2 separate regions of the Homo sapiens genome follow, and region 2 is linked to region 1. Evidence: fine-mapped QTL for protein levels in blood plasma. Region 1 holds a variant in brackets. A gene starts in the other region. All regions are shown on their reverse strands. Region 1 has its middle 5.4 kb from the start of RHBDD1. Region 2 holds the start of CD79B (CD79b molecule).

What was found. PIP is the posterior inclusion probability: the model's chance that the variant is causal. Protein levels are from antibody-based Olink assays in UK Biobank. Linkage for the fine-mapping came from a reference panel and not from the study's own genotypes, which makes the PIPs less certain.
Region 2: it holds the start of CD79B, and the variant in region 1 is fine-mapped to the plasma level of the CD79B protein (UK Biobank, PIP above 0.99).

Annotation. Positions count from the first base shown.
Region 1 is chr2:226,829,225-226,832,133 of GRCh38, reverse strand. It overlaps a transcript of RHBDD1 not described here. Among named protein-coding and RNA genes, the nearest start is that of RHBDD1, 5.4 kb to the left of the region's middle. The variant C/T (reference allele first, on the strand shown) is at 1,404.
Region 2 is chr17:63,929,644-63,932,484 of GRCh38, reverse strand. It overlaps CD79B (CD79b molecule), which reads left to right and starts at 154. Exons shown (of 6, transcript NM_000626.4): 1 at 154-290; 2 at 1,100-1,150; 3 at 2,100-2,411; 4 at 2,597-2,715. The coding sequence starts at 224. RefSeq lists enhancers at 1-174, 148-537 and a silencer at 1,235-1,304.

The DNA.
Region 1 (2,909 bases):
AACACCAAGAAAAAGAGTCTCAAATCTACACTTCCACCTTGAAAACTAGAAAAAGAGGAGGAACGTAAACCTTTAGCAAAGGGAGGAAATAATGATCATATTGCAAATCAATAAAATAAGTAACAAAAATAGAGAAAATGAAAATCAAAAGTTTGTTTTTTAGAAAAAAAAAAAAACCAGTAAAATTAATGAGCCAACATTAAACTGGCCAAAAAATTAAAAAGACCAAAATTAGGAATCAAAACAGGTACATCACTACCAACCCAAATTAAAAGGATTGTAAGAGACTGTAAATAACGTTGTGCCAATAAATTAGACAATGCAGATGAATTGGACAAATTCCTAGACAGACACAAATTGCCAAAACTGGCTCAATAGAAAATCCAAAAAGACTTTATTTTCTATGGTGGTTGTAAAAAAAAAAAAAAGTATTATAAACTAGGTGGCTTAAGACAACAGAAATTTATTATCTCATGTTCTAGAGACATGAAGCTCGATCAAAGTGTTGGCAGGGCTCTGCTCCCTCTGAAACCTGGAAGAGAGAATTCTTGTCTCTTTCCCACTGCTGGTGTTTTCAGCAATCCTTGGCCTTTCTTGGTGCTCCTTGGTTTTACAACTGCAGCACTTCAGTCTCTGCCTGCATCTCCACATGTGCTGTTCCCTCACGTGCCTGTCTCCTAGAGGCTGAAGTGCCCAGCCTACTCCAGTGTGACCTCATCTTAATGAATTACATCTGCAATGACCCTCTTTTGAAATAACGTATTCTAAGGTACTGGGGGTTAGGGCTTCAACACATCTTTTTGGATGACACAGTTCAACCCATAACAGACATGTAACAAGTACGGAAATTTAATACTTTCCACAAAGAAAATCTTCCCACAAAGAGAAGCCCAGGTCTAGATGGATTCACTGATGTCAATCCATCAAATATTTAAGGAAGAAATTATACCATCATACACAAACTTTCTGAAAATAGAACAGTTCTCCACTTACTCTGTGAGGATGTTATTACCCTGATAACAAATTCAGACAAAGACATTACAAGATCAGCATCCCTTGTGAATGTACAAAAATTCCCAATGAAGTATTAGCAAACCAAATATGGCAATATGTATGAAGGATAGATCATATACCATGAATGCAAGTTTGGCTTTCCATCAAAAAAGGCCAGGTGCAGTGGCTCACACCCGTAATCCCAGCACTTTGGGAGGCCAAGGTAAGAAAGTGCTTGAGCCCAGAAATTTGAGACCAGCTTGGGCAAGATGGTGAGATCCTATCTATACAACAAATTAAATAAGGCAGGCACAGTGGCACACACCTGTAGTCCCAGCTACTCAGGAGGCTGAGGCGGGGGGATCACTTGAGCTCAGTAGTTCAAGGAATAGCGAGCTGTGATTGTGCCA[C/T]TGCAGTCCAGCCTAAGTCACAAAGGGAGACCCCATCTCTTGAAAAATAAAAAAAAGTTTATATCTGGCACTGTGGTATGCACCTGTAGGTCCAGCTACTCAGGACGCTGAAGCAGGAGGATCACGTGAGCCCAAGAGTCTGAGGGTCTAGTGGGCTATGATTGCATCTTTGAATAGCCACTGCACTCCAGACTAGGCCACATAGCAAGACCCTCTTAGCAAAAAATTAATATAAAACACCATATTAATAAGCTAGAGGACAAAAACCACATGGTCATCTGTCTTAGTCTGTTTGAGCTGCTATAACAAAAGTTCCATAAATCGAGTGGCTTGTAAGCAACAGAAATTTATGTCTCAGTTCTGGAGGCTGGAAAGTTGACAAAGCATCATGGGCAGATTGATGAGTGCCTGCTTCCTCATAGACAGCACCCTCTTGCTGTGTCCTTACATGGTGGAAAGGAGAACTAGCTCTCTGGGGTCTCTTATAAGGGCACGATCTCATTCATGAGAGTTTTGTCCTCATGACCTAATTCCTTCCCAAAGGCTCCACATCCTAATAACATCACCTTGGAGATTAGAATTTGAACATAAGAATTTTGGAGCAACACAAACATTCAGACCATCATCTCCATAGATGTAGAAAAGCACTGTTCTAAATCCAACACATATTTATGATAAAAGCTCTCCGGGAAGTAGGAATGGAAGGGAACTCCCTCAATCTAGTAATAATAAAGGGCATCTATAAAAAAAAAAACCTACAGTCAATATCATAGTTAACATAAACCACCAAAAGCTTTTCCCCTGAGATTAGAAACAAGAAAAGAACGTCTGCTGTCATCACTTATGTTGTACTGGAGGTTTCAGCTAGTGTAATAAAGGAAACGAAATAAAAGGCATCAAATTGAATAGGAAAAAGTGAAACTCTATTCACAGATCACCTGATATGTAGAAAATCTTAAGGAAAATACACACATACATACACACGCACACAGATAAAACTACTAAAATTAATAAGTTTAGCACAGTCTCAGGATACAAAATTTTTTGAAAAACATATTTCTCTACACCACAAATTAGCAGTCTGAAAATAAAATTGAGAAAACAATTTCATTCCAGGTAGCATCGAAAGAATAAAATACTTAGGAATATTAGAATCAAATTAATAAAAGAAGTGTAAGGCTTGTACACTGAAAAATACTTAATGGGGCTGAGATAAATTGACATTTCACATTCATAGAATGGAAGCCTCAATATTGTTCAAATGACACTCCTTCTTAAATTAACCTATACATTCAATACACAATCCCTCAAAATTTCAGCAGGCTTTTTTGGGGTACACACTTCACAAGCTGGTCCCTATAATCTAGAATAAAAGAACTAGAATGGCCAAAACAGTTTTGAAAAAGAAGAATAAAGTTGGAGGAATTATACTACTTAATTTCAAAATGTGTTATAAAGTTATAGTAATCGTGACAGTGTGCTATTGGTGTAAGAATAGGCATAAAG
Region 2 (2,841 bases), not on the chromosome of region 1:
TGGGCGACCGCCAAACCTTAGCGGCCCAGCTGACAAAAGCCTGCCCTCCCCCAGGGTCCCCGGAGAGCTGGTGCCTCCCCTGGGTCCCAATTTGCATGGCAGGAAGGGGCCTGGTGAGGAAGAGGCGGGGAGGGGACAGGCTGCAGCCGGTGCAGTTACACGTTTTCCTCCAAGGAGCCTCGGACGTTGTCACGGGTTTGGGGTCGGGGACAGAGCGGTGACCATGGCCAGGCTGGCGTTGTCTCCTGTGCCCAGCCACTGGATGGTGGCGTTGCTGCTGCTGCTCTCAGGTACAGAACCCACGACGAGGCCTGTGGGGTTTGCTCTCATCTCCAGCTGTCTGGGCCCTGCGGCTCTGCCTCCTGCTTGCTCCACCCTCCTCCTCTGTCTCTCACTCTTTACCGCCTGTCTCCCTCTCATGGCCCTGGGGCCTGGGTCTGTGGGTGTCAGCTGCACGTGGTGATGGGCTCAGGAGCCTGTGGCCCCAGTTCCTCTCCTGCCTGGAGAGCATCAGGCTGAGCTGGGCATGAGGAGCAAACCAGAGTTAGCAACCAGGACCGTGGAAGAACTAGGCTCAGGAGGAAGAGAGGCTGAGGGCGGTGCCTGGGGGTCGGGAGGGGAGAGGCTGTCCCAACCGGACCCTGGAAGATGCAAGATCCAAATGTGGTCCCCTCCTCTGGGAGGTGAAAGATCCTCCGGGCTGTGACTTTCTTCCTGTCTCTCTTTAAAAAAAAAAAAAAAAAGAGAGACAGGGTGTCCCTATGTTGCCCAGGCTGGTCTCAAACTCCTGGACCCAAGCGATCCTCCTGTCTTGGCCTCTCAAAATACTGAGATTTCCCTGTCCCTCCTGTCTCATTCAGATGCCTGCTCAAAGCCACCATGAGGGTCAAAGGCAGAAAGGGGGCTGGGGGCAGGGCTTCCGGTACCCCCACCCCATATCTGTCTCCCAAGTACTGGGGGCAGGGAGGACCGAGGGGTCTTGAAGCTGCTGTCATGGAAGGAGGAAGTAGCTCCGGGAACATAGAGGGCATGCAGGGGTGGGGCAGCCCAGGCCAGAGGAGGCCCTGACTGGCCCCGCCCACTTCCTCCCACCCAGCAGCTGAGCCAGTACCAGCAGCCAGATCGGAGGACCGGTACCGGAATCCCAAAGGTCAGTAGCCTCGCCTGCCGCTTCTGAGGGCAAGTTGTGTGCGACTATGTCCTGTGTCCGACTATGGTCCCTGTCCTGGGGGCGGTCCGCCTTCCCACCCTTGCCTGATCTCCCCATCCAGGATTCCCATCCCCAGGCCTCCTTAGGATCTCCTCTGAGCCCCACCCCCAGCCCACTGTCATCCTCATCAGACACATGCCCTCCAGCCTTGGCCACTGAAGGGCTGGGCTAAACTCTGGGTCATAGCAAGGGAGCCTGGGGGTTCCTCTAGGACTCAGGCCCGGGCCTGTCTAGCTGGGAATCTGGCTGAGTCTCGGGTGAGCCCTCCAGTGCAGGGTCACTATGTGAGGGGCTCAGGGATTCCCGGGCAGTGCTCACTAAGAACAAGGCAGTCGAAGCTGGAAAGAGGGTTCTGGAACAAGAAGTGGACCCAGTCCCTGCAGGAGGGAAGAGGGGGATGATAGAGGGAAGTCATGCAGGGAGGGGGTCGACTGAGGAAGGTCTCAGTTGACAGACTAGGAATTTGGCCTTTATCCCTGGAGGAACGGGGGAGACTGAGGATTTCAAGCCTGTGCAGGGCAGCCCAGTGAAAGGAGGGGCCAGGCCTGTGGGCCTCCAGGTCCTGGGGGTGTGGCCTGGGTCAGGCTGTTGTAATGGGCATAGGAAGGAATGGCAAGGTCCCAGGGCTCTTCCAAAGGAAAATCGAAGGGGAGGTGGGGCAGTCGGGAAGAGGTGGAGTCTGAGAGCTTGGCCGTGGCTTCTCATGTGGCTCAGCCTCTCACGTGGCTCTGCTTCCCAACTCCAACCTCAGCCTCCTGCCTGTCCCACACCCTGAGAAGCAAGGACTAAGCCCAGGGAGTCTGTGCCAGCCAGGGCAGGGGCCTGCTGCTGGGGCTGGCACTCAGGAAGATGCCAAGCGGAATGCTGAGCCTGGCCTTGGCACCCACAGGTAGTGCTTGTTCGCGGATCTGGCAGAGCCCACGTTTCATAGCCAGGAAACGGGGCTTCACGGTGAAAATGCACTGCTACATGAACAGCGCCTCCGGCAATGTGAGCTGGCTCTGGAAGCAGGAGATGGACGAGAATCCCCAGCAGCTGAAGCTGGAAAAGGGCCGCATGGAAGAGTCCCAGAACGAATCTCTCGCCACCCTCACCATCCAAGGCATCCGGTTTGAGGACAATGGCATCTACTTCTGTCAGCAGAAGTGCAACAACACCTCGGAGGTCTACCAGGGCTGCGGCACAGAGCTGCGAGTCATGGGTGTGTGCCAGGTGGCTGGGACGCTCCTGTAGCTGTCCGCCCCACCCTAGCCCGGCCTGCCTCTTGTGGTGATGGTCATGGCCCTAGAGCACTCAGGAGAGCCACTGGGACCTGAGGGAGCTGCCCTTGTAGGCCTAAAAGGTGGACTGTGGCCCAGGCTCACAACCCCACCCCTGTCCCCGCAGGATTCAGCACCTTGGCACAGCTGAAGCAGAGGAACACGCTGAAGGATGGTATCATCATGATCCAGACGCTGCTGATCATCCTCTTCATCATCGTGCCTATCTTCCTGCTGCTGGACAAGGTGATCAGGGGACGGGGGAAGCCTTGGGGGACCGCAGAGGAGGCCACCGCATAGGCCAGGCATATGCAGGGTCTCCATCTCCCCAGCTCTCGTTGTGGCCTTCTTGGTCCAGCCTGTCCCCACTGG